2 separate regions of the Homo sapiens genome follow, and region 2 is linked to region 1. Evidence: fine-mapped expression QTL. A gene starts in region 1. The other region holds a variant in brackets. All regions are shown on one strand. Distances are between the middles of the regions. Region 1 holds the start of ZNF688 (zinc finger protein 688). Region 2 has its middle 43 kb from the start of ZNF629.

Region 1 (15,651 bases):
TAAATGTAAAGAAAAATATAAATGACAGACTATGATAAGTACTAAAAATAAGAGGGTTGTTTAGGGGTCATGTAATGGGGGGTTGTTCAGATATCTAGGAAGTGTGTGAAATTGCCCAGGATGGGTGACAAACGCTTCACAAAGGGTCCCCTGTAGCATCTCTCACCGCTGTCCCCTCTTGCTCAGGCCCTTGCTGAGTTAGGCCAGGGGCCTCCTAGCTGGCCTCTGGGCCTCCAGCCTTTTGCCTTTGCCGTCCATCTGTCACTGCAGCCTGGTGTAGTGAAAACAGGAAGAGCAGTGCCTGGGAAATAGGAGATTTGGGTTCCAGGTCTACTTCTGCCACTGACTCAGCTTCATGATCTTAATTATGTCCCCTCCTTGGGTCAGGTGCTGTGGCTCATGCCTGTAATCCCAGCACTTTGGGAGGCTGAGGTGGGTGGACCACGAGGTCAGAAGTTCAAGACCAGCATGGCCAACATGGTGAAACCTCGTCTCTACTAAAAATACAAAAATTAGCTGGGTGTGGTGGTGTGCATTTGTGATCCCAGCTACTCTGGAGGCTGAGGCAGGAGAATCACTTCAACCCAGGAGGCGGAGGTTGCAGTGAGCCAAGATCACACCACTGCACTCCGGCATGGGCGACAGAACAAGACTCTGTCTTGGAAAAAAAGAAAAAAATTATGTCCCCTCATCTCTCTGGCTTCAGCATTCTCAGAGTGTATTCTGCAGAACAGTATTCCCATGAGAAGCTCTATGGAAAAAAAACAAACAAACAGCCTTCTCCATTCCCCTTGACAGTCCCCTTTGGCAAATTTAAGGTTCAGGGCAGCCTTCAATAAAGAAATGTAGTCCGCCGGGGGGCATGGTAGCACATGTCTGTACCACATGTCTGTAGTCCCAGTGCTTTGGGAGGCTGAGGCAGGAGGATTGCCTGAGCCCAGGTGTTTGAGGCTGCAGTGAGCTACAATCATGCCACTGCACTCCAGCCTGGGCGACAGTGAGACCCCATCTCTAAAAAAATTTTTTCACATTAAAAAAAACTTTCCAGGCCAGACGCTGTGCCTCATGCCTGTAATCCCAGCACTTTGGGAGGCTGAGGCAGGTGGATCATGAGGTCAGGAGTTCGAGACCGGCCTGGCAAACATGGTGAAACCCTGTCTCTACTAGAAATGCAAAAATTAGCTGGGCGTGGTGGCACGCACCTGTAATCCCAGCTACTCAGGAGGCTGAGGCAGGAGAATTGCTTGAACCCAGGAGGCAGAGGCTGCAGTGACCTGAGATCCCAACACTGCATTCCAGCCTAGATGACAGAGTGAGACTCCTCTGTCTCAAAAAAGAAAAAAAAAATTGGAGATGGAGGGCTGTGATGGTTCTACAATAGTACTATTACACATTTTGCCACTGAACTGTACTGTACACTCAAAAATAGTCTAAATGATAAATTGTATATTATGTATATTTACCACAAAACAAAAACAAAGACAACCCAGTGATGTCCCAACATACTGAGAATCATGGAGCTGGGTGCAGTGGCTCACACCTGTAATCCCAGCACTTTGCGAGGCTGAGGCAGGGGGACTTCTTGAGCCTAGGAGTTTGAAACCAGCCTGGGCAACATAGTGAGACCCTGTCTGGAAAAAAAATTAGCTGAGTGCGGTGGTGTGCACCTGGGATCCCAGCTACTTGGGAGGCTGAAGTGGGAGGATGACTTGAGCCTGGGAGATCAAGCCTGCAGTGAACCATGATTGCACCATTGCACTCCAGCCCAGGAGAGAAAGCGAGACCCTGTCACAAAGAAAGAAGACGTGGTGTCGGGGTGGGGGTTAGAAAGAGAAGGAAGAAAAGATACTTAGCATCATGGGAAGCGAGAGCCTTGTGGGAGCGCCTCCCCCTCCCTAAGCCCATCTGTTAATCTTCTCCACCTGGTGTCTCAGCACAGCTACAGATGTCCTTTCTGCACCTTGTGGGAACTCATCCCTAGCTTGGAACATCCCACTTGCTGTTCCCTTTCTTTGGAAACGTCTCTACCCCCTACTCTCCCCGACCCCAGCCCCAAGCCTTTGAACCCTGCCCTTCCCCACTCCCTGTCCCCTAACCCTGTTCCCTGTGGCTCTTTCTCAACATGGCGCAGCCTCAGTATCGGTCTGCAGCAGGCTCTTTCTGCACATCGCTGTTCGAGCTCCTTCATAAGCCTTAGTATTTGCATTCGCAGTCCCTTCCTTCATTCGTGTTCTGGTTTATCACCTGTCTCTCCCTCGTAGAAAGTAAGCTCCAAGAGGGTTCCTGTGTCTGTTTCCCCTGCTATGTTCTGGCATGGAGAATAACAGCTAGTGCATGGTAAACGCTTAGCAGCTATTTGTTAAATGCGCCAATGAGAAAGAGAAATAGCAGACAGCACTTGCCCTGTGTCCAGCACCAGAGCTGGGGCTGCCCAGAGCAGCTTTATGCTTGACACACTTCACCTGGTTCTGCTCCTCCCTCACTGGCAGGGCCTCCTCTCTCCAGCTGCACCTTCTCCTTGGCCTCCCTGCTCCCCAGAACGGATCACCCTTGGCCTTCACACCCTCCTACTCCTGATCACCCCTTGGTGGGCATCAGGTCCCCTGGCTCCGGCTCTCCATACTGGAACCTCTGGGTCTTACTGGCTCATATTGGCAGTCACCGAGCTGCAGATTCTATGTCAGAAGCCTCTCGTGTCTTTCTTCCTAATTCCAAGGTCACCACCTTGGTCCCAGCTCCCAGTGACCCTCACTTAGGAAAAAATGCCCAACAGATCTCTAGTGTCTAGCTCTGTCCCCCAACCAGGTCACACCCACACTGCTTTGCAAAGATATCTTCTGATAGCACCTGGCAAACAGCACTGCACTTGCTCAAGAACTTTCTGTGGCTCCTCAGTGCCACAGAATGTATCTCAAGCTGCTCTGGTGGCCTCTGTGGCCCTCCCAGATTTGACCCCACTTCTCGGCTGCATCTGTCTCCCATTCTTCCTTATCTAGTTTTTTTGTTTTGTTTTGTTTTTGTTTTTGAGACAGAATGTCTCACTCTGTCGCCCAGGCTGCAGTGCAGTGGCACGATCTCGGCTCACTGCAACCTCCACCTCCCGGGTTCAAGCGATTCTCCTGCCTCAATCTCCCGAGTAGCTGGGATTACAGGTGCCCACCACCATGCCCAACTAATTTTTGTATTTTTAGTAGAGACAGGGTTTCACCATGTTGGCTGGGCTGGTCTTGAACTCCTGACCTCAGGTGATCTGCCCGCCTCAGCCTCCCAAAGTGTCTTTTATTCTTTCTATGAAGCAAGACTCCTTTGCTGTTTCCTCTGCCTGAAAATCTCCCCCAACACCAATTCATAGGCTATGGGAAGCACAGCCATCTCCTCCCAGGAACATTTCCTGGCATATCACCAACCAGCCTAGGTGAGGTGGTGCCTCTGGGCTTCCTCTGTCATAGCGCCAATTAATCTCTTCCCACGTCGAACGTGGGCCCTGACTCAGCTGTATCACTGGAGCCCAGCACAAAAACCCACAGAGGCTTCAGGAGGGTGTTTGCTGAATGAATGAATGAATGGGGTCAGCTTTCGTCATCGTGGAATTCCCCTATTACCTAGCACAGTCCCTTCAACAGAAGGCACTCAACACACAGTCACTAAGTGCCAATTGTACCTTCTTTTTTGTTTTTCTTTTTGAGACAGAGTCTCACTCTGTCGCCCAAGTTGGAGTGCAGTGGCGCAATCATGGGTCACTGCAGCCTCAGTCTCCCTGGCTCAAGTGATCCTCCTGCCATAGCCTCTCAAGTAGCTGAGACTACAGGCACGCGCCACCACACCTGGCTGATTTTTGTTTTTGTAGAGATGGGGGCCTCACTATGTTGCCCAGGCTGTTCTCAAACGCCTGAGCTCAAGAGATCCTTCCATCTCGGCCTCCCAAAGTGTTGGGATTACAGGTGTGAGCCACCACGCCCAGCATGACTGTGCCTTCTAAGTAAAAACTGGCCAGGCGAGGTGCCTCACACCTGTAATCCCAGCACTTTAGGAGGCAAAGGTGGGAGGATCTCTTGAGCTCAGGAGGTCAAGGCTATAGAGAGCCATGTTAACACCACTGCACTCCAGCCTGGGTGACAGAGTGATACTCTATCTCAAAAAAATAAAAGAGAAAAGGAAAGGATAAGAAAAGGGGCACTTACTGGGACTCTTAGTTTTCTGCTCACACTCCCCAAGCAGGCTGGGCTGGGACCTGCATCCTGAGTTCCCAGCCCGTGTTTTCTGTCCAGATCTGACTTCTCAAAGGAAGTGGTAGAGACATCTGGGCTCTGTGTTCATTTCCACCCATGCTGCCACATGGGAGTGAAATCTTGAGAGCATCACGTTATCTCTCTGAGTCTCAGTTTACTTATCTGCAAACATGGTTATTGATATCCATGCCCTGGCTCCCTGGCAGGCTTCTTTACACTTTCTAAAGTGTAGACCATCCACAGTAATTCACTCTTTCAACAAATGTGTATTGCACAATTACTATGTCATACATCTTGTTAAAATGTCAGTCTCCACGGTAACCCTTTGAGGTAGATATTATTCATCTTCATTTTACAGAGGAGGCACTGAGACTCAGGAAGTTCACATGACTTACCAGCTGTGCCTGGGGTAAGTTGCAGAGACTAGTTTTTGTTTTGTTTTGTTTGTTTGAGACAGAGTCTCACGCAGCTGCCCAGGCTGGAGTGCAGTGGCGCAATCTCGGTTCACAGCAACCACTGTCTCCTGGGTTCAAGCAATTCTCCCATCTCAGCCTCCTGAGTAGCTAAGATTACAGGCACCCACCATCATACCCAGCTAATTTTTGTATTTTAGTAGAGATGGGGTTTCACCATGTTGGCCACTGGTCTTAAACTCCTGACCTCAGGTGATCTGCCCACCTCGGCCTCCCAAAGTGCTAGGATTACAGGCATGAGCCATGGCGCCAGCTTTTTTTTTTTTTTTTTTCTTCTAAGAAATGGAGTCTTGGCCAGGCGCAGTGGCACATGCCTGTAATCCCAGCACTTTGGAAGGCCAAGGTGGGTGGATCACCTGAGGTCAGGAGTTTGAGACCAGCCTGGCTAACATGTGAAACCCCGTCTCTACTGAAAATGCAAAAATTAGTAGGGCATGGTGGCGTGCACCTGTAATCCCAGCTACTCAGGAGGCTGAGGCAGGAGAATTGCTTGAACCTGGGAGGCAGAGGTTGCAGTGAGCTGAGATGGCGCCACTGTACTCCACCCTTAGTGACAGAGTGAGACCCTGTCTCAAAAAAAATAAAAGAAAGAAATGAAGTCTTGCTCTGTTGCCCAGACTGTAGTACAGTGGCACAATCATAGCTCACTGTAGCCTTGAACTCCTGGGCTCAAGCAGTCCTCCCACCTCAGCCTCCCAAGTGGCTGGGACCACAGGCACGATGTGCCACTATGCCTGGTTCATTTTTTTTTTTTTTTTTTGTAGAGATAGGATTTCACTATCTCTAGATAGTGATATCCTAGATATCTAGATATCGCTAGATAGCCTGTTGCTCAGGCTGGTCTGAACTCCTGGACTCAAACGATCCTCCCTCCTTGGTCTCCCAACAGAGGCTGGATTTGTGCCACCTGCATCTATTCTACTCCCATCCACTCCAGTGTCTGGGTCCCCTGCTGATGACAATTAGCCAGGGTTTGACCACGCCCTCCATGTAGGTCCCCTCCCCAGGCCCTGGTCCCCCTCAGCATCTGCATCTGAAATAGATAAGGAGTGGCTAGTTCCTGAGATGATATAAAGGTCTCTGTTGCACCTGATCTTCAGATAACACTTTGAAATGAGTCCAGGGTCTCACTCTCTTCTTTTTTTTTTTTTTTTTTTTTTTTTTTGTTAAACAAAAGACTGGGGAGATGGGTGGCAAGTCTAATCTATTCGAATCTTTACAGGCACTTTTCTTTTTACAAGTTGGAAACTTGAGGGATCCTTGAGGAAAGCCCAGGGCATGAATTTCAGTTCCGGAGTCCCCGACTCAGTGGCCCACCTCAGGGATCCGTCAGTCCTTCGTGCCAAGGTCAGGCTCAACTCCAGCCTGCGGTGCCGCTCAGCCGCACTCCTCGAAGATGTCTGGGTAGTGCCGGAAGAGCACAGGCGGGTCCCGGTCACCTCGGACGGGGGCCCGAGGCACAGCCCGGATCCCAGGCCTCCGGCCCCGCCGCCCCCCGGAGCAGGAGCGGTGGATCCACTGGTGCGCTTCCACTGCGAACTTCCTCTTGAAGCGCATGCCACACTCGGGGCAGGGGAAAGGCCGCTCCCCCGAGTGCATGCGCCTGTGGCTGACCAGCAGTGAGGGGTAGGTGAAGCGGCGGCCGCAGTCCGTGCACACGTGGCGCCGCTGGCCGGCCTGAGCATCCATGCTGGGTATGGGTGCCGGGGGCTGTGCTCCTGTGGTCGGGTCCCAGGCAGCATTTTTGGGTGGCTGTGCCCGTGCCGGGGCCACGCTAATAGCTGGGTCAGGGTTGCGTTCCACCAGCACTTCAGGACTCTCCTTCACAGGAGCCTTTCTAGGCCCTTTGGCTCTTGGGACTTCCTCCGGTTCCTCTTCCTTCCTGTTTGGGACATCTCCTGGGAAACCGGAATTAAGTTACACTTACAAACACTTTTGCACAGACTGTCTCAGGTTATAGAATGCTTTTCACTTAAGGCAGTGAGGGAAGTTCTGTCCAGTGATTAACACACAGGCTTTAGAACAAGGTAAACAGGATTCAGATCTCCTAAAAGTGCCTTATCTGAGCCTTGGTTCCTTATGCATCAAATGGGAATAATAATGGCTTTTGACTTCACAGCGTTACTGGTTTAGCTGAGTAGATGCATGTTAAGCACTTAGGAAGTGCTCAGGAAGCAGGGGCTATTATTTATTTATTTATTTATTTATTTATTTATTTATTTATTTATTTTTGAGACGGAGTCTCACTCTGTCACCCAGGCTGGAGTGCCTGGTTGGACTGGGCTCCCAGTCCTCACAGGACCGCTGTCCCATGTTCTGAAAACTTTGTACCAGGTCTGCCTTCTTTACTCCTCTAGTACCCAACACAGTTGAATTTCTTTAGGGATGCTGGAAGTGGGGGCCTGAAAAGAAACTCTGCTAGACAGGAAGCCCTGGAAAACCAAGTGGGGGGACCCGGGACTATCCCTCACCTCTCCGAGCTCCTCCCAGTCTTTCCCCCTTCTCAGGATCCTGGGCGGCGGGGCTCCAAGCCTCACTCTCCTGTTCCATCCAAGAGATGAGGGCTGGTTTGGGGCCTGGGAATCCTGGGAGAGAACAGGGATCACAGCGCGGGCCTGAGAGGCCATCGTGGGAAGATGGCATTCCCCTCCAGGCTGAGGGCACCCCCTCGGAGCTTATACTCAACCTGGAAGGGGCTGCAGTGCTGCTGCCTGAATGAAATGGATGCGGGTGAAAACACTCCCGAGGGGGTACCTGAAGCCCTGGGAACGGGAGGTGGCTGCTGGTGTTGGTGCAAGAGTGCGGGATTAGGGCTCACAGTCCTCTCGGCCCTTCTACATCATCTCCCCTGTGAACCCGGTGAAGGAGGAGGGGGCTCGGACCCGGGGCTCTCACCGAGCGCGCCCAGGTGGCCGTAGGTCTCCTGCATCACGTCCCGGTACAGAGCCCTCTGCGCGGGCCGCAGACAGCCCCACTCCTCCGGGGAGAAGTACACGGCCACGTCCGCGAAGCTCACAGTCCCGGGCTTCCTGCAACCAGGCCGGGTCTCCCCGGGCCTCGGCGCCAGGAGCGGGGCTGGGGGCGGCGCCATGGGGCCTCGCAGCCCCGATCGGCGGCCGCCAGGTCCCTGGAGCCGCCGCCTCCCCGCTCCCGGCCTCAGCTGTCGTTGTCCACAGGAAGGGCGGCCCCGCCCAGCCGTGGCGTCCGAACGCAGCCGAGGCAACCGAAGTAGCAGGGACTGGCTGCTAGGGATTCGAGGATTCTGATAGGGACAAATATAATTCCTCAGTGTTTATTCACTTCATGGCCGCTTGGACATAGACACCCGGGTTAAGGGACCCGGAAGGTGCCTTCTGAAAATATGGCGACCACCCTTCAATTGTCACAGGCTGCTCTTAAGGGCGCCATTATTTGACCATATCAAATATGGAGCCTTTCTGACTTCTCTGGCCTCATCGTCCCACTTGCCCTTAAATAAAGCCGCTTCGGCTGCTTTTTCTAGTGGGGGAGGCGGGGTGTCTGGGAAGTAGAGGAGAGGCTTCTTGCCTTCAAGAAAGATGTAAGGGCCCGAAGCTTCACTTACCCCTCTGTACCCGCAATACGCAACGGCCGATGATTGGCGACGATCCCGGAAGAAGCTGCGCGGTGATTGGCCTGGGACTGGCGGGGCATTTGAAGGGACCCCGCGGTCCTGAAGCCTCTGTTGACAGACTGGAGCGCAGCGGAGACCTCGGCATCTGCGGTGCTCGGGATTGTGTCCCCTACGGTCTCTTACCGTGCCTCCCGATGGCGGGAGCTGGAATTTGGTCCCCAGACCCCTTGGGAAGACGCGCACACCCTGGCAAACCATGTGTACACCCGCGGTAGAAGCAGGTGCGTGTTTTACAGTAGCTTAGCTGCGGAGTCCACCCAGCCCCTGGCATCCGCAGCTCGGCTCGCTCAGGCTCTAGACCGAAGCTGCAGGCGAAGGAACGTGCTTGGTGAGGATGGAATCGGAATGGGGAAGTTTTAAATTAAATAGTAATTGTTGCTAACATACATGAATTTATTTTTTGTTTGTTTTGAGACAGGGTCTTGCTCTGTGGCCCAGCAGTGCGATCCTAGCTCACTGCAGACTCGACCTCCCGGGCTGAAGCGATCTTCTCACCTCAGCCTCCCGAGTAGCTGGGACCACAGGCGCACACCCAATGCTTGGCTAATTTTTAAATTTTAAAACAGAGACAGGGTCTTGCTATGTTGCCCAGGCTGGTCTGGAACTCCTGGCCTCAAGCAATTCTCCTGCCTCGGCCTCCCAAAGTGCTGTGATTACAGGCATGCGCCACGGTTCCCAGCCATTTCTACTTTTTCTTTGAGAAGGAGTTTTACTCTTGTTGCCCAGGCTGGAGTGCAATGGCGCTATCTCGGCTTGCCCAGGCTGGAGTGCAATGGCGCTATCTAGGCTCACCGCAACCTTCGCCTCCCAGGTTCAAGCGATTCTCCTGCCTCAGCCTCCCAAGTAGCTGGGATTACAGGCATGAGCCACCATGCCCGTCTAATTTTGTATTTTTAGTAGAGACGGGGTTTCTCCATATTAAGTCAGGCTGGTCTCGAACTCCCGACCTCAGGTGATCCTCCCGCCTCAGCCTCCCAAAGTGCTGGGATTACAGGCGTGAGCCACGGCGCCCGGCCCTGCCATTTCTACTTATTTACGTTGTTCCAAATTATCAAAGATAGCATCAACTTTCAAATCCTAATTTTTTTTTTCCTGGGAAACCTTCCTCCTTTAGCCTTCAGTCTCCTCTCTAAACTGGGTTGGGCCTCAGTTCTTCTCATACCGGGTCTCCCCTTCCTGCTGTCCTGGGTTGTATCTTCCGCTTCCTAGATTTAAGGTCTTTATTTTTCAGCCAAGATGGGTCATCCTCATGGCTGGTGGCATTGGACTGTAAATACTAGTTGCCTTCATCCCCACATTTGGAATATACCTGCAATCATACAGGATGCAGAATACTGTTTGCTAAGCGTGGGGCTGGTTGCTGGAGATAACAAGCAAGGCCTACCAGGTCCCTGCTGTCATTCTGGCTCTGGATCTACTTGCTTGGCTCCCCTGCCAGCCCTAGTATATCGAGCCTTCCTTTTTATTCAATAGTGTTTTTTATTGCTGACTTTTCAGTCAAGATTTCTTTGTGTTTTCTGGCCTACCCTTGCTGTTTTTCACCTGAAATGCTTTTTGGCTTTTAGTGTGACTCCTGCTGATCTCATATGCATATGTTATTAATTGATTAATTATTAATTGTTAATAATTAAATATTATTAATATGCTTACATTATTACCTTGAGTTCTGGAACTGCCTCACTGCACTCCATGTGGTGAATACTGTAGAAATTATATAAGGAAAAATATATCCTTAGAAATGAGTATTTTTTAAATTTTGAAAATATTTAATTTAGGCCCAGCCCAGTTGCTCACACCTGTAATCTCAGCACTTTGGGAGGCTGAGGTGGGCAGATTGCTTTAGGCCAGAAGTTAGAAACCAGCATGGGCAACATGCTGAAACTCCATCTCTACTAAAAATACAAAAATTGGCCAGGTCTGGTGGTGCACACCTGTAGTCCCAGCTACTCAGGAGGCTGAGGCACAAGAATTCCTTGAACCCAGGAAGCAGAGGTTGCAGTGAGCAAGATCATGCCACTGCACTTCAACCTGCGTGACAGAGTGAGACCCCGTCTCAAAAAGAAAAAAAAATTGGGCTGGGCACAGTGGCTTGTGCCTGTAATCCCAACACTTTGGGAGGCCAAGGCGGGAGGATCACCTGAGGTCAGGAGTTCGAGACCAGCCTGGCCAACATGGCAAAACCCCGTCTGTACTAAAAATACAAAAATTAGCTGGGTGTGGAGTCGGACGCCTGTAGTCCCAGCTACTCAGGAGGCTGAGGCACAAGAATGGCTTGAACTCAGGAGGCAGAGGTTGCAGTGAGCCAAGATCACACCATTGCACTCCAGCCTGTGTGACAGAGCAAGACTCCATCTAAAAAAAAAAAAAACAAACAAAACAAAAAATATATTGATACACAAAATTTTTACATATTTATGGAGTTCATGTGATATTTTGCTTTTCTTCATACATAGAATGTACAATAATCAAGTCAGGATATTTAAGGTATCAATCACTTTGAGTATTTAACATTTCTATGTGTTGGGAAAATTTCAAGTCCTCTCTTCTAGCTATGGAAATTTACAGTACTTTGTTAACTACAGTCACCCTACTCTGCTATTGAACATTACAAGTTATCCCTTCTTCCTAAGTGTATGTTTGTACCCATTACCCAACTTCTCTTCATCCACCTCTCCCACCCACGTACACCCTTCCAATCTCTGGTATCATTCTACTCTCTACCTCCATGAGATCAACTTTTCTAGCTCCCACATGTAAGTGAGGACATGTGATATTTGCCTTTCTGTGTCTGGCTTATTCACTTAACATAATGACCTCCAGTTCCATCCATGCTGTAAACATGATTTCATTTTTTATGGCTTAAGTCCACTGTGTATATATATCATATTTTCTTTATTCATTTGTCCCCTGATCAACACTTAGGTTGATTCCATATCTTTGCTATTGTAAACACGGCTCTACAGTAAACACGGAGATGCAGGTTATCTTTTTTATATACTGATTTCTTTTCCTTTGGATAAATTCCAGGTAGTGGGATTGCTGGATCACATGGTAGTTCTTTTTTTTTTTTTTTGAGACGGAGTTTTGCTTTTGTTGTCTAGGTTGGAGTGCAATGCCCTGGTCTCGGCTCATTGCAGCCTCTGCCTCCCAGGTTCAAGTGATTTTCCTGCCTCAGCCTCACAAGTAGCTGGGATTACAGGCACCCTCCATCACACCCAGCTAAATTTTGTATTTTTAGTAGAGAAGGGGTTTTGCCATGTTGGCTAGGCTATTGTGAACTTCTGACCTCTGGTGATCGACCAGCCTTGGCCTCCCAAAGTGCTGGGATTACAGGTGTGAGTCACCATGCCCAGCCCACATGGTAGTTCTGTTTTTGTTTTTTTCAGACATCTCCATATTGTTTTCAGTAGTGGCTGTACTAACTTACGTTCCCACCAACAGTGTGTAGGAGTTCCCTTCTCTTTTTTTTTCTTTTTTTTTTTGGAGAAGGAGTTTCACTCTTGTTGCCCAGGCTGGAGTGCAATGGCACAATCTTGGCTCACCACAACTTCTGCCACCAGGGTTCAAGCGATTCTCCTGCCTCAGCCTCCCAAGTAGCTGGGATTACAGGCGCGTGCCACCACTCCTGACTAATTTTGCATTTTTAGTAGAGATGAGGTTTCTCCATGTTGGTCAGGCTGATCTTGAACTCCCGACCTCAGGTGATCCACCCACCTCAGCCTCCCAAAATGCTGGGATTACAGGCGTGAGCCACTGCGCCCAGTCAAGAGTTGCCTTCTCTTAGCATCCTTGCCAATACCTGTCATGTTTTGTCTTCTTAATAACAGCCATTCTAACTAAGGTACGATAATATCTCATTGTGTGCTTTTTTGTTTTTGAGTCAGTCTCGCTCTGCAGCCTAGGCTGGAGTGCAGTGGCGCAACCTCAGCTCACTGCAACCTCCCCCTCCTGGGTTCAACCGATTCTCCTGCCTCAGCCTCCTGAGTAGCTGGGATTACATACGTGCACCACCATGCCCAGCTAATTTTTTTGTTTGTTTGAGATGGAGTCTCGCTCTGTTGCCCAGGCTGGAGTGCAGTGGCGCGATCTTGGCTCACTGCAAGCTCCGCTTCCCGGGCTAACGCCATTCTCCCGCCTCAGCCTCTGGAGTAGCTGGCACTACAGGTGCCCGCCACCACGCCGGCTAATTTTTTGTATTTTTAGAAGAGATGGGGTTTCATTGTGTTAGCCAGGATGATCTCGATCTCCTGACCTCATGATCCACCCACCTCGGCCTCCCAAAGTGCTGGGATTACAGGCGTGAGCCACCGCGCCCAGCCACCCAGCTAATTTTTGTATTTTTAGTAGAGATGGAGTTTCACCATGTTGGGAAGGCTGATCTCAAACTCCTGACCTCAGGTGATCCGCCCACCTCGGCCTCCTAAGCTGCTGGGATTATAGGCGTGAGCCACCAGGCCGGCTTCATTGTAGTTCTGATTTGCATTTCCCTGATGATTAGTGGTGTTGAGCATTTTTTCATGTACCTGTTGACCATCTGCATGTTTTATTTTGATTCTCCTTCTATTATGATTATTATTATTAATTATCATTATTATTGAGACAGGTTCTCACTCTGTCACACAGGCTGGAGTGCAGTGGTATGATCACAGCTCACTGCAGCCTCAACCTCCCTGGGTTCAGGTGATCCTCCCACCTCAGCCTTCAAGTCGTTGGAACTAGAAGTGTGCAACACCATGCCTGGCTAATTTTCGTTTTTGTAGAGATGGGGTCTCTCCATGATACCCAGGCTGGTCTGGAACTCCTGGGCTCAAGTGATCCTCCCACCTCAGCCTCCCAAAGTGCTAGGATTACAGGTGTGGACCACCATGCCCAGCCTATTATTGTCATTTTGAAACAGAGTCTCACTCTGTCACCCAGGTTGGGGTGCAGTGGCAAGATCAAAGCTCACTGCAGCCTGGAACTCTTGGGCTCAAGTGATCTATGCTCCCACTTCCACCTCCTGAGTAGCTAAGACTACAGGTGAGTGGCTATTTGGATTCTCCTTTTAAACAGAGTAGCAACTTGAACCAAAAATACTTTTGTTTCTTCAGATCCTATGTTGTAAATCACTTCTCTTTGAACTAAGTATGCAGAAGACTTAAGAAGATGAAGCTGAACAATAAAAATATTAACTAAACAGATTGAAAGAAACTTTTTTTTTTTTTTTTTTAGATGGAGTCTCGCTCTGTCGCCAGGCTGGAGTGCAGTAGTGGGATCTTGGCTCACTGCAACCTCCAACTCCCTGGTTCAAGCGATTCTCTTGCCTCAGCCTCCTGAGTAGCTGGGATTACAGGCACGCATCACCACACCCAGTTTTTGTATTTTTAGCAGAGACAGGGTTTCACCATGTTGGCCAGGATGCTCTTGATCTCCTGACCTCGTGATCCGCCTGCCTTGGCCTCCCAAAGTGCTGGAATTACAGACATGAGCCACTGCACACTGTACCCGGCCTGTGGTTTTTTTTTTTTTTTAAGACAGAGTCTCACTCTGTGGCCAAGGCTGGAGTGCAGTGGTACAATCTCGGCTCACTGCAACCTCTGCCTCCCGAGTTCAAGCAATTCTCGTGCCTCAGCCTCCCAAGTAGCTGAAAACAGCACAACCTGCTAATTTTTGTATTTTTAGTAGAGATGGGGTTTTGCCATGTTGGCCAGGCTGGTCTCAAACTCCTGGCTTCAAGTGATCCACCGTCCTCGGCCTCCCAAAGTGCTGGGATTACAGGTATGAGCCATAGCGCCAGGCCTGAAACAAACTTTCAAGTAAGACTAAAACTGTTCCGTGTAGCTGATGAGTTGTTTTTCCTGCCACTCATTATAAAAATACAAAAATTGGCCGGGCACAGTGGCTAACACCTGTAATCCTACCACTTTGGGAGGCTCAGATAGACAGATCACTTGAGCCCATGAGTTCAAGACCAGCCTGGGCAAAACCCCATCTGTACAAAAAATACAAAAATTAGCTGGGCATAGTGGCATATGCCTGTAGTCCCAGTTACTCAAGAGGCTGAGATGAGAACGAGAAACACCTGAGCCCAGGAGGTCGAGGCTGCAGTGAGCCGTGACTGTGCCACTGCATTCCAGCCTAGGCTATAGTGAGACCCTGTCTCAAGAAATAACAAGAACAACAAAATGCTCTTGCTTTCAAATTATTTTATTGCCCATCAAATTGTAAATGTTTCTTCAAGACTCTTGATCAGATAATTATGAGAAGTCACACAACATACAGGAGATGACTGGGCTTCAATCGACTTTACTTGTCAATAACAGAGTACAACTGAACTTTAAGTGGGAGCTGAATTTCTTTCTTTCTTTTTTGAAACAGAGTTCCACTCTTGTTGCCCAGGCTGGAGTGCAATGGCACGATCTTGGCTCACTGCAACCTCCGCCTCCTGGGGTCAAACGATTCTCCTGCCTCAGCCTCCCGAGTAGCTGTGATTACAGGCATGTGCCACCATGCCTGGCTAATTTTGTATTTCTTTTTTTTTAGTAGAGACAGGGTTTCTCCATGTTCGTCAGGCTGGTCTCAAACTCCTGACCTCAGGTGATCTGCCCACCTTGGCCTACCAAAGTGCTGGGATTACAGGTGTGAGCCACTGCGCCTGGCTCTTTTTTTTTTTTAATAGTGTCTTGCTGTTACTCAGACTGAAGTGGCGCCATCATAGCTCACTATAGCCTCAAACTCCTGGGCTCAAGCTATCCTCCTTCTTCACCCTCCCCCACCATGCTCGGCTAATTTTTAAAATTTTTAGTAGAAATGAGGTCTTGCTGTTTTCCAGGCTCGTCTCAAACTCCCAATCTCATGCAATCCTCCTGCCTCAGCCTCCCAAAGTGCTGGGATTACAGGTGTGAGCCACTGTACCCAGCTGAGAGCTTAAGTTTCTTGCATAAAACTCAGCTGTATGCTGAAGTGTTTAGAAGTGAAATGTAATGATGTCTGCAACTTACTTTGAAATACATTAATAAAATGGATAAATGAATGGATAGAGGGATGGATAGGCAGATTGACATGTGTAAAACAAATAGAGAAAAATGTTATTTGTAGAATCTAGGTGATGCTAAAGGCCACACAGCCAGTGGGGACTGAGCCAAGCTAGGAATCCAGGTCCACCAATTCAGGAGAGGCTATGTGGTGAAGTAAAGATAACACCCCGTTCCCAGTTTTTGTATCTGTTTTTGTTTTGAGACAGAGTCCTGCTTTGTAGCCCAGGCTGGAGTGCAATGGAGCCATCTCAGCTTACTGCAACCTCTGTCTCCCAGGCTCA
Region 2 (15,651 bases), 260 kb after region 1:
CAATGCCAAGCACGAGGAAGAATCGGCCTATATTTTTAATTTTTATTTTTTTTGAGATGGAGTCTTGCACTGTTGCCCAGGCTGGAGTGCAGTGGCACGAGCTTGGCTCACTACAAGCTCCGCCTCCCGGGTTCACACCATTCTCCTGCCTCAGCCTCCCTAGTAGCTGGGACTACAGGCACCCGCCACCAAGCCCGGCTAATTTTTTTGTATTTTTAGTAGAGATGGGTTTTCACCGTGTTAGCCAGGATGGTCTCGATCTCCTGACCTCGTGATCCGCCCACCTCAGCCTCCCAAAGTGCTGGGATTACAGGTGTGAGCCACCGTGCCCGGCCATTTTTTGTATTTTTAGTAGAGACGGGGTTTCACTGTGTTAGCCAGGATGGTCTAAATCTCCTGACCTCGTGATCTGCCCACCTCGGCCTCCTAAAGTGTTGGGATTATGGGCGTGAGCCACTGCGCCCAGCCCTAATTTTTTTTTTTTTTTTTTTTAGATGGAGTCTCGCTCTTGTCGCTCAGGCTGGAGCGCTGTGGTGTGATCTCAGCTCACTGCAACCTCTCCCTCCCGGGCTCCAGTGATCCTCCCACTCAGCTTCCCAAGTAGCTGGGACTATAGGCACATGCCACCCTGTCTGGCTAATTTTTGTATTTTTTGTTAGAGAAGGGGTTTCGTCATGTTGCCCAGGCTGGTCTCAAACTTCTGAGCTCGAGAGATCTGCCCACTTCGGCCTCCCAAGTGCTGGGATCACAGGTGTGAGCCACTGGGCCCAGCCTCGAATGGGTTTAATTTTTTTTTTTTTTTGAGATGGAGTCTTGCTCTGTTGCCCAGGCAGGAGTGCAATGGCGAGATCTCAGCTCACTGCAACCTCTGCCTCCTGGGTTCAAGCGATTCTCCTGCCTCAGCCTCCTGAGTAGCTGGGATTACAGACATGCACCACCACACCCGGCTAATTTTTGTATTTTTAGTAGAGATGGGGTTTCATCATGTTGGCCAGGATAGTCTCGAGCTCTTGACCTTGTGATCCGCCCACCTCCGCCTCCCAAAGTGCTGGGATTACAGGCATGAGCCACCACGCCCAGCCTTTTTTTTTTTCTTATGTTAAATAAACAACAAAGAACTGTGAAATAAAATATATAACAATACAAGGAAAAACATGAGAAACAGTTTTATTGGAAATATTCTAACACATTTTCTGAACAAATAATCAAAAAATAAATAAGGACATAGAAAATATGAACATATAAATTTCTTACCCTGAAAACAAACAGTACACCTTCTTTTCAAGTTTCATGGACAGTGGACAAAATTAAATAATTATTAAGCTACAAAGAATATTTTGGTAAATTTTGAAAAGTAGAAATTCTAGAAACCATTCTCAGATCAAAATGCAATACAACTAACAATAATGTAAAACATACCACTTAGAAATTTTGAAACGTAAGTAGCACCTCAAATTATCCTTAGGACAAGATGTAAATCAAGAGTTAAAAAAATTAAAAAACAGACGATTTAGAAAATAATTTAAAAAGTAGGATTAACAGCCAAAGCTATATGCAGAGGTAAAAACAGCATTAAATGCTTTTAGTGTCAAAAATAGAAGAAAAATGAAACGAATTAAGCATGCTTGCAAGTTGGGATTTTGGAAAGTAGTATAAAAACAGTTCCTCCAAAAATGGGAGAAATGGAATATTTGAAATAGAAAACAGAAAAAGCAAACACTCAGAGGCCTGAGAGGTGGTGGGATGAGTTTTCTGCCTGTGGACAGAGACACGCTTGGAGGCATCCCCGCGGGCTTGGTCCCCTGGCGTGTGTCATCAGGCCTGTCCCCTCTCACTCCTCGAGCCCCGCCTGGTGTCCTCTCCTGTTCCCAGGGCTGAAGCTCCTGTGTCTGTGTCATCACCGCATCTTGAACATCCTGTGCCTTGATTGTGGCACTCTACAGGTTTCTCTACAACTAATTCTTTTCACTTATGACTCACTTACTAGTAGACTTGACAGGACAGGAACCATGTCCTGATACTCATTGGATCCACAGGGCCCGGTAGGCATTGAGTTCTTAATAGACATTATGAGTGGAAGAAAATGAGCAGATGGACTCAAGCACTGATTCCTGAGTTGCATCTGGCCCCATTGCCCAGCCACAGGCTGGAAGCCCATGTCCTGAGGCCTGGAATGAATTAGTCCAACAATAAGAGGACTAACTATGCAGGATCCACCTAATAGATTGTTATGCAACCTATAATGGCTGTGTTGACAATGTCAATAAAATATGAGGAAGTGGGGCTTTGATTGTTTTTCTTTTTCCTTTTTTTTTTTTTTTTTTTTTTGAGATGAAGTCTCGCTCTGTCGTCCAGGCTGGAGTGCACTGGCGCTACCTCAGCTCACTGCAAACTCCGCCTCCCGAGTTCAAGTGATTCTCCTGCCTCAGCCTCCGGAGTAGCTGGGATTACAGACACCTGCCACCACACCCGGCTAATTTTTGTAGTTTTAGTAAAAACAGGGTTTCACCATATTGGCCAGGCTGGTCTCGAGTTTCTGACCTCATGATCCACCCACCTCGGCCTCCCAAAGTGCTGGGATTACAGGCATGAGCCACTGCACCCGGCCTTTTTTTTCTTTTTTTTTTTTTTACTTTTTTTTGAGATGGAGTCTTGCTCTGTCTGCCAGGCTGGAGTGCAGTGGCATGATCTCGGCTCACTGCAACCTCCGCCTCCCGAGTTTAAGCGATTCTCCTGCTTGGGCCTCCCAAGTAGCTGGGATTACAGGCGCCCGCCACCATGCCTGGCTAATTTTGTATTTTTAGACCATGTTGGCCAGACTAGTCTGATTTTTTTTCTTATATTTCCTCTTTTTACTGAATAATCAAAGATTTCTTGTGTGAAATGGAAAATAGTCTTCTCCTCAAGTCCCAGTTCAAACGCCATCTTCTCTGAGGACCGACCCTGATTTCTCCAACCAGAAACACTCTGGCCTTTCCTGGGCTCCCAGAGCACCTGCCCCTCCCTCTGGTCTCTTACAATTTCTGCCTTTGGTTATCTGTGTCCTGCCAAGGGGCTGTCAGCACCCCATAGGCAGGACTGCATACTTCCTGGATGCCTGCACCCCAGGATGTTCATTCCGACTTGAACCCACCCTCTATGGGCTGTGCGGGGTGGGAGGGGACAATATACAGGTTTGAATGAGCACTGGCCGGAATGACAGAGACCACAGTGAACTCAAAGCATGCCAGGGCAGAGGATTATGGTGCCCAAACAGACTCCAGCAAGCCTTGGGGACCAACCTGTGCACACTCACACCTGCTGTGTTATACCTGGCTGGGAAAAGGTCCCGGGAGCAGGTTGTATAGCTCTAGCTACAATGAGGCAGGGAGACATGGGTTTGCTGTCACATCACCAGGGGCTGGTAAAGGAGCAGGTTGTATAGCTCTGGCCACAATGAGGCAGGGAGACATGGGTTTGCTATCACATCACCGGGGGCTGGTGAGTGCAGTTGAGACAGGTGTTTTAATCATCGTTTTTGCACCCAGATGAACAAGGAGAGGGCATTCAGGCATGGCGACCCGCCTGAGCCACCTCCAGGGGCAAGAGATGAGCAGATTTACTTCAGAAAGGACAACAGCATCAGCCACTGCCACAGCCCCCCCCAGATCATCTGTACTGGCTGTCAGAACAGTCCTGCTGAAACGCCAATCACACCTGTCATTCACTGCTCTGCCCAAGACTCTTCAGTGGGCTCCCCAGCGCTAAGCATTTGGCCTGACACTCCAGGCGCCATGTGCCCTGGTCCCCACCTACCTCTCCACTGCAAATTCTGGCCATACACCCCTGCACCCCCAAACAGTGCACTCCCATCTCAGTCCACATTCTCCCCTTACAACATGATTCATCCAAGACCATGGATTCGTGGCCTTAAGTTTACTTCTGGTCTGGACTTCTGTGTCAGCTCCAGAGTATAGTTGTCTCACTGACCCCTTCACTTGGGTGCCAGAGAACACTGGATATTCCAGACCCCTCAAACTCAACGAATCTAACACCTCCCCCCACCACCACCCAACCCCTTACTCTGCTTGTCTTCCCTGTATTAAGTCAACATCACCATTCCCCCGGATGCTCCGGTGGCTCTCAACTCTGCCCTTTCTGACTGTGCGTTCAATCCACCACTAAATCCTGCTGATTCTACCTCCAATGTTTTTATTTTATTTTAGAGACAGGGTCTTACTCTGTTACTGAGGCTGGAGTGCAGTGGCACAATCATGGCTCACTGGAGCCTCAAACTCCTGGGCTCAAGTGATCCTCCCACCTCAGCCTTCCGAATAGCTAGGACTATAGGTGCACAGCACCATGCCTGGCTAATTCTTACTTTTTTTTTTTTTTTTTGAGACGGAGTCTCGCTCTGTCACCCAGGCTGGAGTGTAGTGGCTCGATCTCGGCTCACTGCAAGCTCCACCTCCCGGGTTCACGCCATCTCCTGCCTCAGCCTCTCCGAGTAGCTGGGACTACAGGCGCCCGCCACCATGCCCGGCTAATTTTTTGTATTTTTAGTAGAGACGGGGTTTCACCGTGGTCTCGAACTCCTGACCTCGTGATCCGCCTGCCTTGGCCTCCCAAAGTGCTGGGATTACAAGTGTGAGCCACCGCGCCCAGCCAATTCTTACTTTTTTTTTTTAAGAGACAGGGTGTTGCTATGTTGCCCAGGCAGGTCTCAAACTCCTGGCCTCAAGCGATCCTCCTGCCTTGGCCTCCCAAAGTGTTGGGATTACAGACGTGAGCCACAGCACTTGGCTTCCAATGTTTCTCTTACCTCCATCCATTCCCTCCCCATGTATGTCACAACCCTAATCTAAGCCACATCTCCCACCTGGACTACACGAGGGTCTCCCTGCTTCCTCATGTGTGCCCCTATAAGTGCATTCTCATACAGTAGTCACGGTGATCTTATCCGTAAACTGAATCATGCCACTACACTGAAGCTGGGATGAAATCCAGGCTTGTAGTTTTAAGGAGCTTCCAGCGGCCAAATCTGGGACAATCTGAGCACCAAAATAATTAAGATTAATAACTAATTATAAAATTTATTGGAAAATAATAGAAATCCAAGAGTCCCTATGAATAGTGAATCTAAAATAAGTGGACAGAAGAATGCCAAGTGTTGACTAATAAATGTGGAGGGAGTCCTGGGGTTGAGTTACTATTCTGTAACCATCGTGATTCTTAGGCAAGAATCATCAATAGGTGTTAAATCTCATCTATTTAACTTTTGATGTGGAATAGGATATAGTCATGGTTATAAAATACCTCCTCATAGATTACTTGTTACAAGGGAAAAATAGTAACTCTAGATTGGAGAAATCAAATAACCTTGACTTGGTGATCAAAATTAAAATCACCAAGGAGGGGCTGGGTGTGGTGGCTCACGCCTGTAATCCCAGCACTTTGGGAGGCCGAGGCAGGCGGATCACCTGAGGGCAGGAGTTCAAGACTAGCCTGGCCAACATGGCGAAACCCAGTCTCTACTAAAAAATACAAAAATTAGCTGGGCATGGTGGTGGGTACCTGTAATCCCAGCTACTAGGGAGGCTGAAGCAGGGAGAATTGCTTGAACCCAGGAGGCGGAGGTTGCAGTGAGCTGAGATCACACCACTGCACTGCACTCCAGCCTGGGCAACAGAGCAAGACTCTGTTTTAAAAAAAATCACCACGGAGGAACAGACAGACATGTGTGGCTTTAGCTGTTACACTGAGAAGGACACAGTATCACTTACACAGTCTTCCAGCCAGGAATGCATAATCCATATATTATAATGAAGAAACAAGTAGACAAACCCCAAATGAAGAATGTTCTATTAAGATAAAGGGGAAGATTGAATTCTTCAATAATATCAACACCATGCAGACAAAGAAAGGCTAACCATTCCCGATTAAGGGATACTAGAGAGAAACAACAACCGAATGC[A/C]ATACAGCATTCTTAGACTTGATCCTGTGCTAGAGGAGAAATGGCATCTAAAGGGTGTTACTGAGACAAGTGACAAAGTAACTTTGATACCACATTGGATCAGTGTGAAATTTAATGCAGTGGATAACTGTACTGTGGGAGGAAACACACTATTTAGGGGTAGAGGAACATGAGGTCTGCAACTTATTCTCAACTAGATTGGAATCAAAGTCATCTGTATATACCTTAAATAGAGAGATGGCCAGTGACAGAGAAATGGGGTAAAATGTGAACACCAGGTGAATTTGGGACAAAGGCTATGCAGATGTCCATTGTACTATTCTTGAGACTTTTCTGTAACTTTGAAATTATTTCCAAATAAAAAGTTAAACCAGGAAGGGCATGGTGGCTCATGCCTGTAATCCCTTTGGGGATTTGTAAGCACTTTGGGAAGCAGAGGAGGGTGGATCACTTGAGGTCAAGAGTTCGAGACCAGTCTGGCCAATATGGTGACACTCTCTCTCTACTAAAAATACAAAAATTAGCCAGGTGTAGTGGCAGGCACCTGTAATCCAGCTACTTGAGAGCCTAAGGTGGGAGAATCGCTTGAACCTCGGAGGTAGAGGTTGCAATGAGCCAAGATCACACCACTGCACTCCAGCCTGGGGACAGAGTGAGTCTGTGTCTCAAATTTAAGAAAAAAAAAAAAAAAAGTTAACCTAAAGCCTCCAGGCTCCTTACTGTGGCCCACCAGGCTCTGCCATCACCCCCGCCCAGGCCACCTGGCTTTATCTCAGCCCAAGCCCCTGCATGCTCAGCTCCCACTATAAGGATTGCCTTTCAGTTTCCCCACCATACCAAGCTCTTTCCCACCCTTGGGTCTTTTGTGCCTACTCTTGCTTGTCTATGGAATTCTCCTCCCCAATTCAGATCTCAGGGAGACAGTAATTGTCACTTTCTCACAATGACCTTCTTTGACCATCTTAATCTAATTTAGATCTACAATATGCTTTCATGGCACCAAGAACTTTTCCTTCATGACACTTATCACAGTTTATAAGAGTGTATTTTGGGGGATTGCATGACGTCTGTCTTCTCCAACAGCCTGGATGCTCCCTGAAGCCAGGAATCCTGTTTGTTCTACTCATGAATGCATCTTTCCACCCCAGCGGCTGGACCTGGCATGCAGCTGGGCATTCCATAGCCAGCTGACTGATTAAATGGTGAATTCCACTCTCCAAATTCACCCCCAGACTGTTGGTAGCGCTCAGAGAACACACTCTGTGGTCTATCTCTAGCCCTGAGAACTCATTCAAGAGGCTTCGTCTTTGAAGCCTTTCTAAATTCCCCACCACTATGCCACAATTTGGAACTAAGAGGCCATGGCAGGGAGGAGGTGGCACTTTGGAAGCAAGCCGTGTTAGGGGAGACATCACGAATGAGACCCAGAGAGGGGATGTCAAGGAGGCAGCTGGCTGCTCAGGCTGGCGCTCAGAGGGGCAGTCTGGGTTAGACTACTGAGAAAGGACCAACAGCTGGAGCTGCGCACATAAAGGAGATCTTTCACAGACCCGTGCAGAAGAAAGAGTCTAAGGACAGGGCCCAAACGAGGCTGACTTAGGGCTAAGCAAGAAAAACAGCCCTGGAAGCAGAGAAGCAGTGTCCAGAGAAGTAGCAATGATATTCAGAGACAGAAAAAGTTGTTACCAAAGGCAAGAAAGGAGGACATTTAGGCACTGAAACCATTTGGATTTTCTTCTTCCTTGTTCAAGATCAGCAGTCTGGCCCCTGGTGGTTGAGGCAGGCTGGTGAGGTTAAGAGCTTGGACTGTAAACTAGCCAGGCGCGGTGGCACAAGTCCATAGTCCGAGCTACTCGAGAGGCTGAGGCACGAGAATCACTTGAACCTGGGAGGAGGAGGTTGCAGTGAGCCAAGATTGTGCCACTGCACTCCAGCCTGGGTGATAGAGTGAGACTCCGGCTCAAAAAAAAAAAAAAAAAAAAAAAGAGCTTGGACTGTGTCTGAATCCTGACTTCATGATATATTAATATCAGTTGTGTGACCTTGGACAATGGACTTGACTTTCTGAGACTTCAAGCCCTCATCTGTACATTGTTGAGGGGCTACTGTCAGAATGACATGCGATCCTCTCTGGAAGGCCCTTTGAGCCATGTTTGGTCTACGGTCTAGGCAATGAATGACATCGTGGTGCATGCACAGTGCGAGAGGGTGCACTGGTTGCCGCTCACAGGAATGTGTCCTAAGTTCAGCCTTTCACCAATAGCAGTTTCAGACAAAAGTCAGAGCCCTCCAACCACCTTCTATTACATGTCCCCTTCCTCTGATGCGGCCCCTAATTAAAAACAAAAACAAAAACATATAGTGGGCAGGTTCCATTTAACATGATCCTTCCTCTAAAGCCTCTTTCTGAAAAATCAGTTTTCTCCCTGTCCCCAAGGGTGCCCCAAGTCATACCATGCCAGAGTTTGCCCTCATGACTACAATTAACCCTTAGCTGAGAGCATTTTGCACTGTTTTCCAGCTACCCATGGTGACACTCGCCTCAACACAGCTACCTTCTGTGGACATAGGTAAGTATTCTCAGGCCCCTTATTTGGGGATACCATTAACGTCTGCCCATAGCTTCCAACCATCCCATCTCTGAAGGCAAGAGAAGTGTGTGGCTACCATTTCACAGTTTAGAAAGCACTTCCCCAACACAGCCTCCCTTTCATCCTCACGACTGCCCGGTGAGGTAGATACAGCAGGTAACAGCTACAGTGGTTTGCATTTATCAAGCACTTACAATGTACCATGTTCTATGTTAAGCATTTTCATATGTGATCCCATTTAAACTCATGAAAACTCTATGAAGATGATGTCTGCCACAATCATCAATCAGTGCCACCACTTTACAGAAGAGAAAAATGGAGTGGTTCGTAACTTGCCTCAAATCAAAGAGGTGGTAAGTAATGGAGCCAGGATTCAAACCTCAGACTGACTACAGAGCCACACTCTTAACCCTCCTACAATATTGCCTCAAAAAGCAAGCATTGACTCCCCACACATTATTCTATCCATTAAATTGAAGCTCAGAGAGGTAAAGTGACTTGCCCAAGACCTCGCCACCAGGAACTGGCAGAGCTAGGATCCATACTTGGATTCTCTGGCTCTGAGGCCCCTGAAACCAAAAAGGCAAGATTCAATGTTCTAGGTAAAATTCCAGCAGCAGACTTGACTTGCCGATGCTGCTCAGTCCAGAGTAGTGTTTCTTTTTCTTTCTTTTTCCTTTTCTTTTGAGACAAATCTCCCTCTGTCACACAGGCTGAAGTGCAGTGGTGGGATGTCAGTTTGCTGCAACCTCTGCCTCCTGGGTTCAAGCAATTCTCCTGCCTCAGCCTCCTGAGTAGGTAGGATTTCAGGCACGCACCACCATGCCTGGCTAATTTTTGTATTTTTAGGAAAGACGGGTTTCACCATGTTGTTCAGGATGGTCTCGAACTCCTGACCTCGTGATCCGCCCGCCTCGGCCTCCCAAAGTGCTGGGATTACAGGCATGAGCCACCGCGCCCGGCCTTTCTTTTTCTTTTTTGAGATAGAATCTCACTCTGTCACCCAGGCTGGAGTGCACAATCTCTGCTCACTGCAACTTCCACCTCCTGGGTTTAAGCGATTCTCCTGCCTCAGCCTCCCGAGTAGCTTGGACTACAGGTGTACAGCACCATGCCCGGCTAATTTTTTTTTTTTTTTTGTATTTTTAGTAGAGATGAGGTTTCACCATGTTGGCGAGACTGGTCTTGAACTCCTGACCTCAAATGATCCAACCGCCTTGGCCTCCCAAAGTGCTGGGATTATAGGCATGAGCCACTGTGCCCAGCCCCAAAGTAGTGTTTCTATGCAGGAAATCCCTTCTGGAATTTATCAGGAAATCTGTATGTTCTTCTGAATCCCAAAATCGATCAGTCAAGAAATTGGGAAAATGGGGAAAAGCATTATAATTCTCCTGTGAGAATTAATGCTTAACAATCAACATAGAGGCATTCCTGGCTTAAAGAAATCCACTGATGCCAAATTGAAAGCAAGAGAAGGCAACGTTGACACACAGAGTCTAAAGTTAAGGTACTGTAATCCCGGTGCTCTGGGAGGCTGAGGCGGTTGGATCATTTGAGGTCAGGAGTTCGAGACCAGCCTGGCCAACATGGCAAAACCGTGTCTCTACAAAAAATACAAAACTTAGCCGGGCATGGTGGCATATGCCTCTAATCCCAGCTACTCGGGCGGCTGAGGCACAAGAATTGCTTGAACCCGGGAGGTGGAGTCGAGATCGCACCACTGCACCTGAGCCTGGGAGCTGCAGCAAGACTGTCTCAAAAAATAAATAAATAAAGTTAAGGTAGACATTTCCAGAATATGGGATAAGAGTACCTAGGAGATAAGTAGTCAAAATACTTTTTGTAGCTGTTGACACACTAAAAGTATATTTGTGGCTGTACCTGTTGTTAAGAGCGAGTCATTCCCACAAATATTAATGTTGACGTGCACTGTGTTTTATACAAATCCTACAAATGATGTTCTAATAAATAACAAGTTTTGGAAACACATAAGTCCTTAAATTGGCAATTCTCTCCCTCTCTCTTTTTTTAAGAGACACGGTCTTGCTCTGTTGCCCAGGCTGGAGTGCAGTGGTGCAATCATAGCTCACTATAGCCTCAAACTCTGGGCTCAAGTGATCCTCCTGCCTTGCCCTCCGAAAGTGCTGGAATTACAGGCATGTGCCACCACACTCAGCCTAAACTGGCAATTTCAACTCGTGATTCTGTGTAGTGTTGTTAATCTTGTCAAATATTTGAACATTTTGTTATTTAAATACTACCCAACAATGTTCATTGGCATCTTCCAGTTACTGAATATTTGCTACGGCCTACAGATCTTTGTAACTACTACTAAATGTGTATTTCTTATTTATTAAAAAATACAGAAAGTGGCCGGGCATGGTGGCTCACGCCTGTAATCCCCGCACTTTGGGAGGCTGAGGTGGGTGGATCACCTAAGGTCAGGAGTTTGAGACCAGCCTGGCCAACATGATGAAACCCTCTCTGTACTAAAAATACAAAAAATTAGCTGGGCATAGTGGCACGTGCCTGTAATCCCAGCTGCTAGGGAGGCTGAGGCAGGAGAATCACTTGGACCCGGAAGGCAGAGGTTGCAGTGAGCCGAGATCACACCACTGCACTCCAGCCTGAGTGACAAGAGCAAACCTCCGTCTCAAAAACAAACAAACAAACAAACAAACAAAAAAAAAAAACACAGAAAGTTATGAAAAATACAGAATAACATGCTTTCAGGAATTCCCCCAAATCCCATTTTTTCATTCCCAACTCCTGAAGATTAGTTTCCCTTTTGGGAACTTGGAAATCTTAGCCCAGAGGAACTGGATGAACTTCCCAGACAACCCAGTGGGATGGCAAATGGAGAGAGGTCATCCTTGTTGGCCTCCAGGAAGGCTCTACACAGGAGCTGGTCCTGGAATGGAGCTTCCTTCACCAACATCACCCTGGTGACGACTGAGAAAAGGTCATTCCAGAATTCCATGGGCTGAACCTAAAGCATTGGCTTGAAGCGTGAAATTTCTGTCATCTCAATCATTGGTACGAATGTTGACTTTCATCCCAGGGAGTATCTACTCACTTCAGTGTAGAAAGCGTTTTCTGTAATTCACCAGAGAAAAATGAATGCTCTCCATAAATGGAGGCCCTGTTAACCCACGGCCTTAACCCCGCTGTGTCCCAGCACAAGAAGTGGTACTGCATTGCTGACTTTGGGCAGGTTCCTTAACCTCTCAGAGACTCAATTTCTCCATCTGCAAAATGCAGATAATGAGAATATCCATGCCACAGGGATGCAGTGAGAACTAAATTACATCAGTCACAATGCCTGGTACAGAGTAAACCCTTGATAAATGGGAGGCGTTATTATTTCCTAGTACAACAGACCCAACGGTGAAGTCAGGAAGTGAGAGCTTGGTGAAGGGCCTTGGAACCACCCAAAAGGCTCACTCGCGCTGCTTCTCGGGCTAGGATTTTCCAGGTAGGTTAGGCCACCAGCTCAGGGCTGCGCCAGAAGTCTCCACGCCTCCACCCGAGGCGGGCGCCTGGGCTGAAAGGCCGCTTGTCCACATGGGTTCCCAGGTTGGCCTGCTAGGCTGACACCCTGGTGGAACCACTTGCCGTATGTCCTCGGGCGCTGGAGGTCTCCCAGCGCTGGCATACATAAGCCCTGGCGTGCGGGGCGGCTTCTGCGCTGGGGTCTCTGCGCGTGCACGGGCCTCAACATATGCATGGACGTCCAGGTGCCACGTGGGCATCTCGTGGTGCTGCAGAAGGCGGGAGGCCGGCGGGTCCCCTGCGCTTGTCCCCGCCACGGCCCTTGCCCGCTGTGGACCCGGAGGCTCAGTGCCGGCAGGACTCGGGACTCGGCGCCTCTCCCGGGGTGGCAGGCGCCTCGCATGGCACACTCAGACCGCTGGGAGGGTGGCCGCATGGGTGCGTGAGGAGGTGGGCGAGGCAGCCCAGTGCACCCCTCCCCTAGGCCTCTAGCAAGGCGGCCTCAGGCACTGGATGTGGTCCGAGTTCTGCCCTAAGCCCTTCCCATGCATTCGGGCGCCAGTGGCGAGCCAGATGGGTGCTGTGGCCTTAGGTTCGGGCAGGTGTGGGGCCGCTCGCCCTCCGATGTTACCGCGGTGGGTGAGCTGGGAAGCTCTTTCCGCCCTCGGGGCACAGGTAGTGGCTGGATCTTGGGGCAGCCAAGGGAGGCTTTAGGGGTCTTGGCTTGCTTGGGGAGCCCACTCACCTCCCCTTACCCTGGGGGATTGTTCTGGGTGCCCTCGGGGCCTTGCTGCCTCCCCCGGGAGCTCTGGTGTCCGGCACCGCCATGGAACTGGGCCGGACATTTGTCCGGAGGCCCCTCCTGGGCAGGAGCCTCCTGAGGGGCTCTGTCTTCAGCCCCTTCTCGTGAAGGGCTCTCCTCGTCATTCTCACTCCCGAATCCTGTACGGAGAAAAGAAGAATCTGGGTAGTGTTTCCTCTTCTCCCCACCTCACTGAGTTTCCACCAACTTGTCCCATTTATGACTTCCAAATGGCGCAAGTTGGTGGAAAGTCTTTTGCAAGCGATTAAGCTGGGTATTTTTGAGAGCAGGCAGAGGGTGAGGCAGGGCCTTGTAGGAAACCTGTAGGACCTCAGTTTCTGAAATTAGACAGTGCTGGGTTTGAATCCCAATTCCAGCCATTACTTGTAGTGTAATCTTGGGCAAGCTACATAACTTCCTGTTAAGCTCTAAGACGGAGATAACCTAAAGGCAGCCTCAAATGATTCTGTCAGTGTGGTTGGTGCATCCACAGGCCATCAGGGATATGTTCAATTGGAAAGATCAATATAAACCTTTACCTTTAAGAAAACTTTTGGCCGGGCTCGGTGGCTCACGCCTGTAATCCCAGCACTTTGGGAGGCCGAGGTGGGTGGATCACCTGAGGTCAGGAGTTGGAGACCAGCCTGACCAATATGGTGAAACCCCGTCTCTACTAAAAATATAAAAATTAGCTGGGCATGGTGGCGGGCGCCTGTAATCCCAGCTACTCGGGAGGCTGATACAGGAGAATCTCTTGAACCCGGTAGACAGAGGTTGCAGTGAGCCGAGATCGCACCACTGCACTCCAGCCTGGGCGACAGAGTGAGACTCCGTCTGAAGAAAAAAAAGAAAAAATTTTTTTAGCAGAGCACGATGGTTTAGCCTGTTATCCCAGCACTTTGGGAGGGAGGCCAAACAAAGCAGGATGATCTCTTGAAGCCAGGGGTTCAAGACCAGCCTGGGGCCAGGCGTGGTGGCTCACGCCTGTAATCCCAGCACTTTGGGAGGCTGAGGTGGGCGGATCACTTGAGGTCAGGGGTTCGAGACCAGCCTGGCAAACATGGTGAAACCCCGTCTCTACTAAAAATACAAAAATTAGCTGGGCATGGTGGTGTGACACCTGTAATCCCAGCTACTTGGGATGCTGAGGCACGAGAATCGCTTGAGCCTGGGAGGCAGAAGTTTTAGTGAACCAAGATCGCATCACTGCACTCCAGCTTTGGTGACAGAGCAAGAATCCGTCTCAAAAACAAAACAAAACCAAAAAGCCCAGCCATAGCGAGATTCCATCTTTACAAAATATTAAAAAATTAGCCCAGCATGATGGCATGTGCCTGTAGTCCCAGCTACTGGGGTGGGGTGGCAAGGTGAGAGGATCACTTTAGCCTGAGAGGTCTGAGCTGCCGAGAACTTATGATCACGCTGCTGCACTCCAGCCTGGGCAACAGAGTTGAGACCCTGTCTTTTTTTTTTTTTTTTTTTTTGAGACAGGTTCTCCCTTTGTTGTTCAGGCTGGAGTGCAGTAGTACAATCATGGCTCACTGAAGCCTCAAACTCCACATCTCAAGCGATCCTCCCACCTCAGCCTCCCAAGTAGCTGGGACTTACAGGTGCATATCACCATGCCTGGCTAATTTTTGTATTTTTTGTAGAGATGGGGTTTTGCCATGTTGCTCAGGCTGGTCTTGAATTTCTGGGCTCAAGTAATTCACCCACTTCAGCCTCCCAAAGTGCTGGGATTACAGGTGTGAGCCACTCGCCTGGCCAAGACTCCATCTCTTTGTATTTTTTTTTTTGTTTTTTGAGACAGAGTCTTGCTCTGTCACCCAGGCTGGAGTGCAATGGTGCTGTCTTGACTCACTGCATCCCCTGCCTACCAGGTTCAAGCGATTCTCCTGCCTCAGCTTCCTGGGTAGCTGGGACTACAGGTGCGTGCCACCACACCTGGCTAATTTTTGTATTTTTTTGGTAGAGACAGGGTTTCACTATGTTGGCCAGGCTGGTCTTGAACTCCTGACCTCGTGATCCACCTGCCTCAGCCTCCCAAAATGCTGGGATTACAGGCATGAGCCACCGCGCCCGGCCGACTCCATCTCTTTAAAAAATTTTTTTTCAACTCTCGTCACTGAGTGAAACTTTGCCACCCTACTGACACTTATGTATATCCTTAATGCCCAGTTGTTGGTGCCTAATAGTGTTTACCATTAAAATAACCAGGAGTTCTTGGAGGGTAGCTGATTACATTTCTTGAGACAAGAAAAATCAGGATGGGTCTATAGCATCCTGTTCATTCCAGAAAGTAAGGATATTTTCAAGGATATTGGGGTAGTGGTACAAAGACAAAGGTGATAATAATTTTTTTTTGAGGCGGAGTTTTGCTCTTGTTGCCCAGGCTGTAGTGCAATAGAGCCTCTTGCCTCACTGCAATCTCTAGGTTCAAGTGATTCTCCTGCCTCAGCCTCCCGAGTAGCTGGGATTACAGGCGCCCACCACCACGCCCAGCTAATTTTTGTATCTTTAGTAGAGATGGGGTTTCACCATGTTGGCCAGGCTGGTCTCAAACTCCTGACCTCAGGTGATCCACTCACCTCAGCCTCCCCAAGTGCTGGGATTACAGGCGTGAGCCACTGAGCCCAGCCGTGAGGACTTTAAATAAGAAGATGCAGATAAAGCACTTAGCACTGGGCCTGCAGCATAGGACATGATTCAAATGAGTTAGTTTATTGAAGAGGGCAGGGGGTGGTAGCAGGAACAGACATCAGAGAGGCAGAGTGCAGAGAGGAGCTTTCCCAGGCATGCTGTCTGGCTGATCA

Evidence for each region. PIP is the estimated chance that this variant, and not a neighbour inherited with it, causes the effect. A credible set is the group of variants that fine-mapping cannot tell apart.
Region 2: its variant is the best candidate, but not a certain one, in a credible set for the expression of ZNF688 in whole blood (TOPMed, PIP 0.65).

Annotation. Positions count from the first base shown.
Region 1 is chr16:30,563,837-30,579,487 of GRCh38, forward strand. ZNF688 (zinc finger protein 688) reads right to left here and starts at 7,878. Exons shown (of 3, transcript NM_145271.4): 1 at 7,598-7,878; 2 at 7,174-7,287; 3 at 5,890-6,600. The coding sequence starts at 7,793. The coding sequence ends at 6,080. It also overlaps a transcript of ZNF785 not described here. RefSeq lists enhancers at 4,585-4,694, 5,654-6,219, 6,220-6,783 and a silencer at 7,646-7,885.
Region 2 is chr16:30,822,171-30,837,821 of GRCh38, forward strand. It overlaps a transcript of BCL7C not described here. Among named protein-coding and RNA genes, the nearest start is that of ZNF629, 43 kb to the left of the region's middle. The variant A/C (reference allele first, on the strand shown) is at 5,954.